Linked DNA regions of Homo sapiens: region 2 is linked to region 1. A link means that fine-mapping ties the variant in region 1 to the expression of a gene that starts in the linked region. Tissue or cell type: monocytes. Region 1 holds a variant in brackets; the other region holds the start of a gene. All regions are shown on one strand. Distances are between the middles of the regions.

Region 1 (8,106 bases):
TTGGAGTGGGACAGAATTTGGTCCTCTTTATTTTTTATGGATTTCAAGGTTTTAGCACATTCCTCATAGGGTTATTGTGAATATCAAGTAAGTTAATATCTATAAAGTGCATTTATAGTACTTGGTACATAGTAGGTGCTCAATAAATATTAGCTAGTATTATTATCTTAAGCTTCAGCCTGGTCTCCCAAAATATGCTCTCACTTACCCAGTATCATAGCCACACCTCATCTCATTTGTCTCTCTTCCCCATTCTATTTTAGTCATTCCAGTTGAGGCACTACTTTCTTTTTGTCAGGTCAGCTCTTTGAAACTTTTCCCAGTGGTTCCCAGTTGCCACCTCTGTTGCCATAGCCTTAAAAAAATTTTTTGTGTGTACTTTTCCAATCTAATTTAAATTATGTGTAGTTATGGTTTCTTCTCTCCCAATAGCCTTTCAATTCCTTGAAGGCAGAAACTGTTCCTTATTTGTCCCTAAACATTCCAGGACCTGTTAAGTAGCGGGTGTTCAGTAGCCATTTGTTGAAATTACTCTGATTTAATTTTTAAGTTAAATAGACTTCTGTTAGCCCACATAAAGAGGTGGCTTTGTGGTGGCTCACACCTGTAATCCCAGAAGTTCAGGAGGTTGAGGTGGAAGGATTACTTGAGGCCAGGAGTTTGACAGCAGCCTGGGCAACATAGTGAGACCCCTGTCTCTATTTTTTAAAAAATTAAAAAACTAGCCTGGCATGGTGGCTCATACCTGTAGTCCTAGCTACTCGGGAGGTTGAGATGGGAGGATTGCTTGAGTCCAGGATGTTGAGGCTGCAGTGAGCTATGATCGTGCCACTGCCCTCCAGCCGGGGCAACAGAGTAAGAACCTATCTTAAGAAAAAAAAGAGTTGGCTTTTCTATTAAAAAAACACCTACCTACATGAACTTTAATGAATGTAATGAATATTCAATTGTAACTACATTTTCTCAGAATTTAACATTTAGAAATTTATGGGAAAGAAGATGCTTGAAATGAAACTGAAACCAAAAGACTCTAAATTAAATCTTTGCATTTGTTTTTATTTTTCTATTTGTAAATATATTTGTAAATATATTTTTATATGTGCATATTTATAATTTTAAAGATTCATCCTGTAAACCACAGATTGAGAGACTTGAGAGATTCCTTTTTATCTTTTTTAAGATTGGCTGGGAATAATGATAGAACATGACCTACCATCAGGCCCCTTGTGGATCAAATATAGCCCACGCCAAATGAAAGCCACTGGTGAGAACTGAAAATGGAATTGTAAATGGAGAGAGGGCAACTAATTAGGAATGTGCCTGGTCAACAGGGAAATAGACTGTCAGTATTGACAGAAAAATAAACTATTGATATGAGTTTTTAATGACTTCTATCTTCACAAGGGTAAATTCACTAATGAGAACAGATGAAAGTTAGTTGTCAGGGTTCTATGTTTTGGAGGAGATGCGTTGGAAGAGGTCTTTAATTGTGAAATGGGGAAAGAGACTGGTGCTGTATTTGGGACTTTTTGAGGAGAAAAAACAAGTCCAGTGAAGAGCAATGTAAATTCCTTTTCTTTATGTGAAGGGGGCCAAAAAGGGTTAAAAACCCAGGATGCAAAAGTGGGTACTGTGCCAGAGTTAGACAGTGATTTATACTGTACATACCAGAAACTGTATAAATCATTTTATTTGACAAATGGTATTGTTATTTCTCCAGCAGACTTAAGAGCTTTGGAATCATCACAGCTTTGTAAGGTAGTATTACAGACTGAGTCATTAGATCATTCATTTTGCCTGATTACATCATCTCACTGGGTTATTGGGGGAATGAAAGAAACTCATTATCAAAATTGTCATCTTGATGATGTAGATTAAAGAAAATGAATCAAACTTCTGAGAATTAACTTTCACAATCTGTTTAAAATTGACTGGGAGTTAAAAAAATTGGTTGCAGAGCAGGAATGATTGAAATCTTGTCATTTTTAAAAGTCAGAGATCAAAGGAATAGTATTTGGAAGATATTTAATATAAACAGTTGAAATTTATGTAGAGTTTTTTTTTTTTTTTTTTTGAAGACTTCTTGGCTGGGCGCGGTGGCTCACACCTGTAATCCCAGCACTTTGGGAGGCTGAGATGGGCAGATCACGAGGCCAGGAGATTGAGACCATCCTGGCTAACACGGTGAAACCCCATCTCTATTAAAAATACAAAAAATTAGCTGGGCGTGGTGGCAGGAGCCTGTAGTCCCAGGGGAGGCTGAGGCAGGAGAACGGCGTGAACCTGAGAGGCAGAGCTTGCAGTGAGCCAAGGTCGCGCCACTGCACCCCAGCCTGGGTGACAGAGCGAGACTCCATCTCAAAAAAAAAAAAAAAAAAGAAAAAAAAGACTTCTTTATTGAGGTATAATGTACATATGATAAAATTTACCTGTCTTAAGTGTATATTTCAGTATTTTTTGTAAATTTACAGAGTTGTCAACATCACCAAAGTGCAGTTTTGGAACACTGTCATTACCTGAGAAAAATCCCTAGTGTATACCATATGCAGTCAGTTCTCAGCTCCTGCCTCTGGTCCTAGGTGACCAGTCTTCTGCTTGCTGTCTTATGAATTCGCCTTTTCTGGACAATTCATATAGATGGAATCTGATAATATGTGACCTTTTTTTGCCTGGCTTCTTTTAATTAGCATAATGTTTTTGAGGCTCACACATGTCGTAGCATGTATCAATACTTCATTCTTTTTTATGACTGAATACTATCCCGTTATATGAATATATTACATTTTGTTTATCCATTTACTGGTTGATGGTCATCTGAAATGTTTCTGGTTTGGGGCTATTTTGACTGATAATGCATAGTAAGACTTTGTGTGGACACATGTTTTCATTTCTCTTGGGAATACAGACTTGAGCCGCCGCACCCACACCAGATGTATGATTCATAAGTATTTTCTCCCAGGCTGTGTCATGTATTTCATTTTCTTAGTGGTGTAATTTGAAGTACTAACATTTAAAGTTTTGATGAACTCCAACTTATTAATTTTTTTCCTTTATAAATTGTGCTTTTGGTGTTATATCTAAGAAATCTTTGCCTAACCTAAGGTCATGAAAATTTTTTTTGAAGATTTTTTCTATGTTTCCTCCTAATAGTTGTATATTTTAGTTTTTACATTTAACTCTATGCCATTTTGCATTAATTTTTATGTGCATTATGAGGTAAGGGTCTAGATTCATTTCTTTTCATGCAGATGTTCAATTTTCTCAGTATCATTTGTATAAAAGACTATCCTTTTCTCATTAAATTCCCTTGGCAACTTTGTCAAAAATCAATTCACCATAAATGTAAGAGTTAGCTTTTAGACTTTAAATTATGTTCTATTGATCTATATGTCTGTCCTTATGCCATATTATACTGTATTGATTATTGTAGTTTTGTAGTAAGTTTGGAAATTGGGAAGTATATCAACTATGTTCTTCATTTTCAAAATTATTTTTATATTCTAGTACAGTCATTATTTCCATAAAATTTAAATTCAGTTTGTCAACTTCTGTGTAACAACTGTTGATGTTTTGATAGAGATTATATTGAATTCACAGATTAATTGAGGAAGAATTGCAATCTTAACAATATTGGGTTTTTGAATTTATGAACATGGAATGTCTGTCCATTTATTTCAGTTTTCTTTATTTTTTTTACTAATATTGTGTAGTGATTAGTGTACATATTGCACTTCTTTTAACAAATTTATTAAGTATTTTTATGCTGTTGTGAATGAAATTGTTTTCTCAATTTCATTTTCAGATGAAATTATTACTAGTGTATAGAAATATAGTTGACTTTTTCATATTGATATTGTATCCTGTAACCTTGTTAAACTCATTTACTTGTTCTAAGAATTTTTTTGTGGATTCTTTAGGATTTTCTGTATACTGGATCAGATCTTCTGTGAATAAAGAAAGGCTAACTTTTTTCTTTTCAATCAGGACTTCTTTTTCTTGCCTAATCGCACTGGCTTGAACCTGTAGTACAATGTTGAATAGAAGTGGCAAGGGGAACATCTTTGCCTTGTTCCCAATTTTAGAGGCAGAACATTCAGCCTTTTACCATTAAGTATGATATTTGTTTTTTTGTAGATACTCTTTATTAGGTTAAGGAAGTTCTCATCTATCTTTAAAAATTATTTTTAATTAGCTTCTTCAGGTTGAGAAGAAGTTTCCTTCTATTCCTGGTTTAGTGAAAGTTTTTATCATGAATGATTTTTGAAGTTTTTCAGACGTTTTTTGTATGTCCATTGATGTGATCATGTGGTTTTTATTTTTTATTCTATTAACATGTGTTGAATGAATTGATTTTTGGATATTAAGCCAATCTTTCGTTGTTGAATTTGGTTTGCTAGTATTTTACTGAGGATTTTTCTGTGTATATTCATGAGGGATATTGATCTCTAGTTTTCTTGTTTCTGGTCTTTGTGTCTTTTGGTATTAGGATAATATTGGCCTTATAGAATGATTTAGGAATGTTCTATTTCTTGGAAGAGTGTGTAGAATTGGTATTATTCTTAAGCATTTGATTAAAACCATCTGGGCCTGGGCTTTACTTTGTGGGAAGATTTTTAATTACTAATTCAACTTTTTTCCTTGTTTTAGGTCTACTTATATTTTCTATTCCTTCTTTTTTTTTTTTTTTTTTTTT[TG/G]AGACAAGGTCTCACTCCTGTTGCCAAGGCTGGAGTGCCGTGGCATAATCACAGCTCACTACAGCCTCAACTCCCTGGGCTCAGGTGATTCTCCCACCTTAGCCACTCGAGTAGCTGGGACTACAGGCATGCATCACCACTAGGCCCACCTAATTTTTTTGGTACTTTTTGTAGTAGAGATGTGGTTTTGCCATGTTGCCCAGGCTGGTCTTGAACTCCTGAACTCAAGTGATCTTCTATTCCATCTTGAGTCAGTTTCAATACTTGGTGTCTAAGAATTTGCCCAGTCACTTAAGTTGTCTAATTTGTTGACAAAAAGCTATTGGTAATATTCCCTCACAATCTTTTTTATTTCTTTAAGATCTGATTATGGTAATCTGTGCCTTCTCTCTCTTGCTTTTTTTTTTTTTTTTTTAACATCTTGGTCAGTCTAGTTAAAGTTTTGTCAACTTGTAATATCCTTTTTTTTTCTTTTGAGACAGTCTCACTCTGTCACCCAGGCTGGAATGCAGTAGTGCAATCTCAGCTCACTACAATCTCCGCCTCCCAGGTTCAAGTGATTGATTCTTCTGCCTAATCCACCCAAGTAACAGGGATTACAGGTGCATGCCACCACACCCGACTAATTTTTGTATATTTAGTAGAGACAGGGTTTCACCATGTTGGCCTATGCTGGAGTGAAACTCTGTCTCAAAAAATAAATAAATAAATAAAACTTTAAAAAATACAGATGGCCAGGTGTGGTGGCTCATGCCTGTAATCCCAGCACTTTGGGAAGCCAAGGTGGGTGGATCATGAGGTCAAGAGATCGAGACCATCCTGTCCAACATGGTGAAGCCCCATCTCTACTAAAAATACAAAAATTAGCTGGGTGTGGTGGCGCATGCCTGTAGTCTCAGCTACTCAGGAGGCTGAGGCAGGAGAATTGCTTGAACCTGGGAGGTGGAGGTTGCAGTGAGCCGAGATTGCACCACTGTGATCAAATGTAAATTCAGCCATCTCGATAATAATGTTAAATGTGAATGGTCTCAACAGCCCATTCTATAAGCAGAGATTGTCAGACTGGCTTAGATCCAACTGTCTGTCTACAAGAAACACAACTTATAGTCAAACACACAAATAAGTTGAAAGTTAAAGAAAAAGATATACCATGTAAACTATAAGCATAATATTGCTGGAGTAAAGAAACAGAATCCTGCAGATACCTTGATTGTAGTCCAGTGAAAACCATTTCAGACATCTGACTTCCAGAACCTTAAGATAATAAACTTGTGTTGCTTTAAGCGACTCCCCTTGCCAAAAAAAGATTGCTGAAGTAAATGTATTAACATCAGACAAAATAGACTTGAAGACAAGAAATATCACTAGACAAAGTGGGGCATATCAGAATCACAAAAATGACAAATCATTACATCTGGAAGATATAGCACTTGCAAATGTACATGACCCTAACAACACAGCCTCAAAATACCAAAGCAAAAACTGACAAAATTCAAGCAAGAAATAGACAATTCAACAGTGGTAGTTGGGGACTTCAACACCTCACTCTTTTTTTTTTTTTTTTGAGATGGAGTCTCACTCTGTCACCTACACTGGAGTGCAGTGGTGTGATCTCAGCTCACTGCAGCCTCTGCCTCCTGGGTTCAAGTGATTCTCCTACCTCAGCCTCCTGAGTAGCTGGGATTACAGGCGCGTGCCACCACACCCGGCTACTTTTTGTATTTTTAATAGAGACAGGGTTTCACCGTGTTGGTCAGGCTGGTCTTGAACTCCTGACCTCATGATTCGCCCACCTCAGCCTCCCAAAATGCTGGGATTACAGGCATGAGCCACCGTGCCCAGCCCAATCCTCAGTCTTAATAACTGATAGAACAAACAGAAAATCAGCAAAGATATAGAAGGCTAAACGATACTGTCAGCCACCTTGACACCTATAGGAAACTCCATCCAACAATAGCACAATACACATTCTTGTCAAATACTCCCAGAACATTCTCCAAAACAGACCATTATTAGGTCATAAAACAAGTCTCAATGAATTTAAAAGGACTGAAATCATACCAGGTATGTTCTCTACCCACAATAGAATTAAATTAGAAATCAACAATAGACAATTTGGGGAATCTACAAATATTTGCAAATTAAACAACGCATAGGTAAATAATCCATGGGTCATAGACTAAATCACAAGGGAAACTAGGAAATGTTTTGAACTGAAAGGAAACAAAGATGTGATATATCAAAATGTATGAGAGGCAGCTAAAACTGTGATTAGAGGGAAGTGCCAAGCTTTAGATGTCTATATTAGAAAAGAATATAGGTCAAATCAATAACCTAAGTTTCTACCTTAAGAAACTAGGAGCCGGGCATGCTGGCTCATGCTTGTAATCCCAGCACTTTGGGAGGCTGAGGTGGGCAGATCAGTTGAGGTCAGGAGTTCGAGACCAGCCTGGCCAACATGGTGAAACCCCGTCTCTACTAAAAATACAAAAATTAGCCAGATGTGGTGGCATGCACCTGTAATCCCAGCTACTCGGGAGGCTGAGGCAGGAGAATCACTTGAACCTGGGAGGTGGAGGTTGCAGTGAGCTGAGATTGCACCACTGCACTCCAGCCTGGGCAATAGAGCAAGACTCCATCTCAAAAAAAAAAAAAAAAAAGAAAAGAAAAGAAAAGAAAGAAAAAGAAAAACTAGGAAAAGAAGAACAAACTAAACCCAAAGGAAGCAGGAGGAAGGGTATAATGATGATTAGGTAGAAATCAATAAAATACAAAGTAGAAAAATAGAGAAAAATCAATGAAACCAACAGTTGGTTCTTTGAAAAGATATTAAAATTTGGGCCAGGTGTGGTGGCTCACGCCTGTAATTCCAGCACTTTGGGAGGCCAAGGTGGGCAGATCAGTTAAGGTCAGGAGTTCAAGACCAAGGTTTCACTCTTGTTGCCTAGGCTGGAGTGCAATGGCATGATCTCGGCTCACTGCAACCTCTGCCTCCCAGATTCAAGTGATTCTCCTGCCTCAGCTGCTCAAGTAGCTGGGGTTACAGGTGCCCACCACTATGCCTGGCTAATTTTTTTGTATTTTTAGTAGAGAGAGGGTTTCACCATATTGGCCATGCTGGTCTTGAACTCCTGACCTCAGGTGATCTACCCACCTCGGCCTCCCAAAGTGCTGGGATTACAGGCATGAGCCACCGCACCCGGCCTTTAAAAAAATTTTTTAGTGATTGTTCTAGGAATTAGAATATGCATCTTTATTTGTCACGATCTACTTCTTTCTTTTTTTTTTTTTGAGACAGGGTCTTGCTCTGCCACCCAGGCTGGACTGCAATGGCGCAAGTGTGGCTCACTGTTGCCTCCACCTCCTAGGCTCAAGTGATCCCCCCAACTCAACCTCCTGAGTAGCTGGGACC
Region 2 (8,100 bases), 59 kb before region 1:
GGGGGGATGCAGACAGGTGGCAAAACCTGGGTCCAAGATATATTTGTCCCAGATATATAAATTGTCACTTTTCTCCCTCCCCTTCTGACTTGCACACTTACAAAGAAGGTTCCTCTTCCTTTTCTAACCATCCCCCACCAGGGAATTTTTCAGGCCTTACAAAGAAGGGAGAGGACCCAGGCCAGTTGGGAGGGTACACGTGGACCTACATCACTCTTTTTGAGGAAGTGAGTAGGGAAACCTAGTTATAAGGAAGCAAGGAAAATAGAGGGAGAGTGAGTACTAAGGCCAGCGCCGTCTATAAACAGAACAATTCCCGTGTGACCTGAAGGTCTAGGAAGACCCGAGGTGAGAAATCTTCACTCCCCTGCCTACTATGGTGCGCCGGATCCCGCCATTTGCACATCTTTGGGCATCTCAGCATCCCCTCTCATGGTCAGAAAGAAATCAAATGAGGATTCAAGTAGGTGCCTGATACTTTTCTTTTAGACTAACCAGAGGAGCCTCTCCCATTCCCCTTTTCCCTGGTCCCCACAAACATCATATTGTTTTAATCTGTCTCCAGGTATAACAATAATAAGACAAAGTCCTTACCCTCAGAGAGCTCACAATATTTTGGTGGAGGTTTGGGTATAAAGGCAAATGTGAAAACATAATTTTACTATAATGGGGTAAAGTTAAGAAAGAGATCTATGCAAACATAGAAAGGAGTGCACTTAAGTCAGTGAAGGTTTTCTGGCTTAGAAGAACCCTGACCTAAAGGAAAAGTAAGAGTTACCTAGATAAGAGCAGGGCAGAACAAGAGAAACTGATCCCTCCACTTCTATTGAGTCACCTGAAATTATATTCATTTTTTGGCAGACATATACCTCCCCCAAACATTCGGCTCTAGTTGTGCCAGTTCTTCCTTGTCAGCCCTCTTACCTTGGCCTGAGGCTTCATTGTCTCCAGTCAGGCGACTATCTCATAGTCACACTCCACTCACGGCAGCCACATTCTGTATTCCAGAACAGCACTTCCTGACAGCACTATAACATTTTCTAGCAGCCACATTTAAGAGGTCAAAAAACAAGTGAAATATTTTACTAATATATTTTATTTAACCCAACATATCTAAAATATTTAAACCATATTTTTAAATTACTGAAATATTTTACATTTTAAAAATATTGTCTTTGAAATTAAGTGTATATTTTATACAGCACATTTCAATTCAGTCTAGCCACATTTCAAATGCTCAATTGCCACATGTAGCTAGATAGTGGTTATACTATGGAGCTCTAAAATTCCGCCCAGACTGAGTGTGCTTGGTGTTTCTCCATTAAACAGATGAGGCCCATCAGTCTGAGGCACAACTATGTATTTTCTCTAAGTCTCTGTACCCCCAAGGCCTTGAAAACAATTCGGAAGGAAGAGAAGGCCTATGAGGTTTCAGCTACAGCAGGCACTCCCTTTAGATGCCAAGCCTAGAAAACCCTAAACTGATGCCTAACTTGCAGCTGAATCACCTTTCAGCAATCAGATTCAGTGCCTCACCAACACATTTGATCCAGGGAGTCTCCAGTTTGTCCTTTGTCCAGTAGAAGACCCACTACAAAGCCTTGATAATTCATCAAAGTGACAGCACCTTCACTGGGCAGTCTGGTGAGAGGACATCTAGCCCTGCCACCCTGGTTCCTGTTGGGAACAGTATCAGATACGTTGTGTTAGATTCACATGAATCTAAGAATCACATGGGCGAAAAATATTGAGAGCATTCTGTTAAAACATTTCCACAAATTGGGAAAAGACCATCTTTAAAAATCTGTTGGGGCCGGGCGCGGTGGCTCACGCCTATAATCCCAGCAATTTGGGAGGCCGAGGCGGGCGGATCACAAGGTCAGGAGATCGAGACCATCCTGGCTAACACAGTGAGACCCTGTCTGTACTAAAAATACAAAAAAAAAAAAAGAAAAAGAAAAAGAAAAAAAAAATTAGCCGGGCGGCGTGGTGGCGGGCGCCTGTAGTCCCACCTACTAGGGAGGCTGAGGCAGGAGAATGGCGTCAACCCGGGAGGCGGAGGTTGCAGTGAGCCGAGATCGCGCCACTGCACTCCAGCCCGGGGGACAGAACGAGACTCCGTCTCAAAAAAAACAAAAAAATCTGTTTACAGAGGTAAAAACACGGGTATTACATGGAGCATAATTTGAAATCCATTCCCTCATATTCAGCCAAGAACTACAGGCCCAGAGAAGGGAAGTGATTTGCCAAAGGTCATTCAACAAATCCCTAGGGGCTGTGATGATCCGTGTCCTTGCCATTACCTCCCTTGTCTCCACTAACAAAAATATTTCAATGGGAGAATGTGCCGATCTAAGGCACTCCTAAAGTACTTGCTGAGAATGACAGCCCTGGGGAGACAGGTCGGCAGCCCTGAACAGGCACTGCCTTACCCGGGCGTAGTGCCCCAATTCGCCACCTCTTGGAGTCCTAGGCGGAGGATACTACTGGGGCAGTTGTTTCGCCAATTCCACATCTCCCGGAGCCTGGCCTGGCCCAGCCCAGCCCCGTCGCTGTGACCCACTTCCTAGCTGCAGGCTGGACCAAGGGGAGGCACATGGGGAGCTCCACAGGGAGGCCACGCCCACGAGGGCAGCTCACAGAATTAGAAAGCCGACGGGGTGCTGTGGTCAGGAGGCGCGTGGGCGGCAGGTTAGTACTTAAGGTGCAGAGACCACCCCCAACCCTTTGACTGGCGGTGGGCATCCCGGAAAGGCATGGCTCGGCCAATTCCAGCCCCGTTTCCACGCTCAGCACCCGCCCTGCCTGTGCGCGAACGGCTCCGGCCCGCACGGGTCGCCAGAGGCGACTGTGTGACACTCGGAGTTTGCTGGGGTCTCCGTGGGCGGGAGGACTTTCCAGCGCAATGGCGACTCCCTAAGCCCCGCAGCTTCTGCGCCCGGGAAAGATATCCAAGAGATGCAAAGCTCTACTGGGCCCAGGCTGCCACCCCAGAGGCCCCCTTCCGTCCCGGGGCCGGGGCTAGGCCAAGGCGGGCACCAGGACTGCCCAGCCTCCCGGCCCTTCGCACTGGTAACCGGTTCCGGGGCGGATGCTTTTTGCATCTGACCCGGCGCGCCCGGTGACGCCTTCGCGTCCAGACGGAAGTGCGGGCGGAGGATCCCCAGCCGGGTCCCAAGCCTGTGCCTGAGCCTGAGCCTGAGCCTGAGCCCGAGCCGGGAGCCGGTCGCGGGGGCTCCGGGCTGTGGGACCGCTGGGCCCCCAGCGATGGCGACCCTGTGGGGAGGCCTTCTTCGGCTTGGCTCCTTGCTCAGCCTGTCGTGCCTGGCGCTTTCCGTGCTGCTGCTGGCGCAGCTGTCAGACGCCGCCAAGGTGAGTCCCGCCCAGCCTCGCTCCTGACGGAAGCTCCTCCCCTACCACCGGCCTTGCGGAAACTGGGTCTGCCAACCTGCTCCTTGGCCCATTCCTGACAGCCATACGCCTGGCCTCACAGCTCCGGCAGACCCCCGCCGCCACCAGCCCCGCCCCTCCCGACTGCCCGGCGGCACTCTCGCCCTCAGCCCCGACAGCCTGGCAGGCAGCGCCCCACGGTCGTCCCCAGCCCCGACAGTGCCCACAGTCCGGACAGCAGCCCCCCACCGCCTTAACATTTCCCTTCCCAGCCCCGGCTGCACGCATCTTACACTTGACAACCTTTTCACCTCCGAGAGCCTTTAACTTTCCACCCTAAGCTCTTGACAGCCCACCTGCGCCCTCCGCCAGCCTCACAGGCCCCGCATGCCCCAAGCCAGAATGATAGGAAGCCCCCATCTGACAGAGCCTTCCCTGTCAAGGGCCGACTCAGCTCAGCTCACCCCTGAACACTTCCCTTCCTGTGGTGGGAACTTGCCCCTCCTGGCCTACTTCCCTCCCAATAGGGCCTACGGAGCATCTCTCACCTGCTTCATATTCTCACCTAACTCCCTCCACGAGTCCCTTGGTGCCTTTCTTGCTTTCTCTCTTCCTGATAATTTAGTGGGTAAGGGAAGAACCAAACTGCAAGAGAGGTGAGGTTGTGGCCTCCCTGGTTCGATTTCTTGACCTTCTAGTTCCCTCATACTGTTCTCTGGTGCCCCAGCTCTCCAGACCTGCCCTAGCTCCATGCATACCTGTGCTTCCTCTTTGATGAGCTAGCTCATCATTGGGGGAGAACAGAAGGGATTCACATTAGTATGATGGGAAAACAGAATGACATTGCGTTTTTAAAAATAAGAGCTTTAATTTATAATATCTTTAAATGTAGGAGTGGGGAAAGGTTACAGGCAGGCAAATGTTTTTGATTCAGAGATTCTTTTTGAAACCATCTCTACCTCCTACCAGAAACAGGGACAGCAGCACGTCTCCTGACTTTGAAAACATTGCTGGCACCCTCTGCATATCTTGCCTCATAACTTTATGTATTGTGATCATGTATTTATTTTTCAGTCTCCTTTACTAGGGTGTGTCCTGGTTATGGGCAGAAACCATGTCTTATGCTTATCTGAATCCACCTTATTGAGCACAAGATCTAACACAGAGCAAATGCTCACTAAGTGGTTGCTGAATACGTTTGTGAATTGTCAATAGCTCTGCCAGACATATCACTGTATATAGGAGGAGTGGGCAAGGTCCTCTGGGGAATGATAAGCCACTTCCTTCTCAAACAGATTCCCCTTTGCTGAGGAAGCATCTCTTCTTTTCTCTATCCAGATACTTAGTCACCTGTTCCTCCACCTCTTGAAACTTGTTTTGTTGGTAGTTGTTCTGTCTGTCAACCAGGAATTAGAAGCAAAGTTTCCTGGGAAGAGTATACTAAACTGATCTCAGAGTCAGGCTACTTCCTGTGTGTACTTCCTTTCTAGTTGTAGGTGGGTGCCTCTAACATTTCATCCCTTCTACGGGACTCTGGCCCAACCCGTTTTATCAATGTCAGTGCCTTCTACCAGAGGGTGAAAGGATGATAGGTAGAATTGTGACCTTTTTTGTGAATAATTTTTAGTTTCTTTCCCATCCTTTAGTAATGAATATTCTTATTTACAGGCACAACTATCTGCTTACCATGTGTCTTTCTAGTGGCAGATAGATGGTAATAACATTAACATAATTTGATTGTCATGTGACCCATAAATATGGTTAATAAGTCTTAGATCATGTATTAGGTATTATTTCAAAATAACTACATGTAATATATAATGATTCATTGGCATTACCATAAAGGACTGTGGCTTTTAAAAACTGTGTCTGTTAAAGTTTTAAATGAATGATTTTAGAATACTTGGTATTCTAAAGAGGATGCTTGGCAAAATGTATATGGTACAGTTTTTAAAAATATTGATGATAAACTGTCAACGCACTATACTGTTTCCATTTTGGTTACAGAATTTCGAGGATGTCAGATGTAAATGTATCTGCCCTCCCTATAAAGAAAATTCTGGGCATATTTATAATAAGAACATATCTCAGAAAGATTGGTAAGTATCTGGATTACTGAATTACCTGTCACATTTGTTTCTGTGGTTGTCAGTGTTATCCCAGAATGTTCATCAAATGCATAGTTTTCTTTTTAAGTATTTCATTTGAAGCAAAAATGTGAAATTCTACTTCCATTTGAAAAAGTGAGAGTGAGGCCCTACGTGCATGATGCCTGCAGGCCTAAAGGTATACAGCCAAAACACTAAGACCCATGTAGGCAGAGTTTCATGGGAGCATATGACTGGGTTTGTGGCACCTAAACTACCCATAGCTATCTTGCTGTACTCCCTCAAGTTTTGGTGAGGGACCTTTCTCCCTCTTGCTTTTCAGTGGAAGGTTAGCAAGCCTCGTTTGTCTGGGTTATAATTTTTACAACTTGTAGGTTTTGATGATGTATTGCCAAGTATGGGAAGCTATGTTTAAAAGTGTCAGAAGGCTCAAGAAGAAGTGGAAATGAGCTATGTAGTCAGAGTTTCCCATTTGGTGTAAATGAAGAAGTTACAGTTGTGCCAAGATATTGACCTGTTCAGTCCTTGGGCAGTCAGGCAGGCCTGTGATGACTGGGGGATCCTGACTGACTAGCCACCAGCAGCCTTCTCTGCTTATCCCAGCAGACCTGACAAATAGCTTTTTCTACGTGTGCCATGAAGCAGTTGGGATGCAGTTGTATTACAGCAGGATGAATGTGTTCCTTCCCATAGAATTGTGATGTTTTATGGTTTGTAACCACGGTGGAAGATGGATGGGATAGGAATTTAGGAAAAATAGTTCCAAATGGTAGGAGCTTTCACGTGTATCTGATTTCATAGCTAAATAGCCATCAAAGAGTTAGAAAGCAAGATTAAATTCATTCAGTTAACAGTATTCCAACCTGACTTTAAAAAAGAAAAGGCAGCCTTTGAGTATGTTTAGTTTCTCTGATGCCACTGTCTGTTCTTCCCTGATACGCATTTAGGTTCAGTCTCATATTTGTTAAGTGTGTTCTTGAGAACTTCTTGTGAACCTCTATGTTCCACTGTAAGTGGTGTCATATTAACCAAGCGATTTGGCCATATTCTTAAAGGTTTTATATCAGGAAGTTACTTTATATGATACAAGAATGTTCAGGCCGGGCACGGTGGCTCACGCCTGTAATCCCAGCACTCTGGGAGGCTGAGGCAGGCGGATCACCTGAGGTCAGGAGTTCGAGACCAGCCTGGCCAACAGAGTGAAACCCTGTCTCTACTAAAAATACAAAAAAAATTAGCCGGGCTTGGTGGCGGGTGCCTGTAATCCCAGCCACTCGGGAGGCCGAGGCAGGAGAATCGCTTGAACCCGGGAGGCAGAGCTTGCAGTGAGCCGAGATCGCGCCACTGCACTCCAGCCTGGGTGACAGAGCGAGACCCTAGCTCAAAAAAAAAAAAAAAGAATGTTCAAATAAATCTTTATGTTACTTCTATAAATTTTCCAAATTTATTCAGTGCTTACAGTTTATTCTGTTATCAGTAATGAAATGCAATGCCTGTCTTTTGAGTAGCAAATGAACTCACTATTCAAGTGGTTAGCACTAATCTTTTCACTAACTTTTCATTATTTCAGACTCAGACAGGACCATATGTCATTAACCCCTGGTTATTAGTAAAAATAGCTTTGGCTTTGAAAACAGTTGAGGCAGGACATGGTGGCTCACACCTGTAATCCCAGCACTTTGGGAGGCCAAGGCAGGTGGATCACTTGAGGCCAGGAGTTCAAGAACAGCCTGGCCAACATGGTGAAACCCCGACTCTACTAAAAATATAAAAATTAGCTGGGCATGGTGGCACACGCCTGTAATTCCAGCTACTCGGAAGGCTAAGGTAGAGAATCGCTTGAGCCGCAGAGGTAGAGGTTGCAGTGAGCTGAGATTGTGCCACTGCCCTCTAACCTGGGTGACAGAGCATGACTCTGTCTCAAAAAAAAAAAAAAAAAAAAAACAGAAACAAAGAAAATAAACAGTTGAGAATAAGGCTTGCTTGGGGTTTTTCTTCCCTCTCTCCCACTCTCCCTTGTTTCTTTTCTGCAGCTTAGCATTTTTCTAGGGATAAGTTCCCAGCTGGCACTGAAAAATTTTAACTGACTTTACGGGGCAGGCAAGTTATGATTCACCAGAATTATGGCTTTACGAGGCCTCCAGTATCTGTGAGGGCCTAGATATAGTTTTACCTTTTGTTTTCTGGGCCTTTCATTTTGTCCAGTTTTTATCTTTAAGTCTTCATTGACTTATGCTGGCTGACTTAAAACTTAAGAGTAGTTGGAGTGCTCTAGTTTGTGTTTGGGGTGATTTAAAGCTAATGATGTGTTACTTTTGGCACTAGGGGGAGGTGTTGCCTAGTTCCTTAAGTGGTTAACCTCTGACTAGGTCTAGCTCTGTTTGTAATGACTGGTCAGCCAAAATCAACCTTCCTGCTTTCTCTCCAGCTGGGCACAACTTTTGCACAGCACTCAAGTATCTTTTTGTTATTAAAATATATCCTTCAAAAGAAATACTCAATACTTACTTAGCACTTAAAATTCCCAAGTCATTCTTAGGTATTGTTGCCAAAGCTTCTGAAGCTGAAGTAGGAAACTAAATAGATCAGTTTCATTTTCCCG

What was found. PIP is the estimated chance that this variant, and not a neighbour inherited with it, causes the effect.
Region 2: TMEM9B starts here. The variant in region 1 is fine-mapped to the expression of TMEM9B in monocytes (BLUEPRINT, PIP 0.95).

The regions. Positions count from the first base shown.
Region 1 is chr11:8,900,478-8,908,583 of GRCh38, reverse strand. It overlaps a transcript of DENND2B not described here. Among named protein-coding and RNA genes, the nearest start is that of AKIP1, 6.7 kb to the left of the region's middle. The variant TG/G (reference allele first, on the strand shown) is at 4,694.
Region 2 is chr11:8,959,481-8,967,580 of GRCh38, reverse strand. TMEM9B (TMEM9 domain family member B) reads left to right here and starts at 3,139. Exons shown (of 5, transcript NM_020644.3): 1 at 3,139-3,372; 2 at 5,398-5,489. The coding sequence starts at 3,268. It overlaps TMEM9B-AS1 (TMEM9B antisense RNA 1), which reads right to left and starts at 2,906. Exons shown (of 5, transcript NR_073431.1): 1 at 2,433-2,906; 2 at 1,537-1,677; 3 at 925-1,040. RefSeq lists silencers at 2,946-3,445, 3,486-3,675.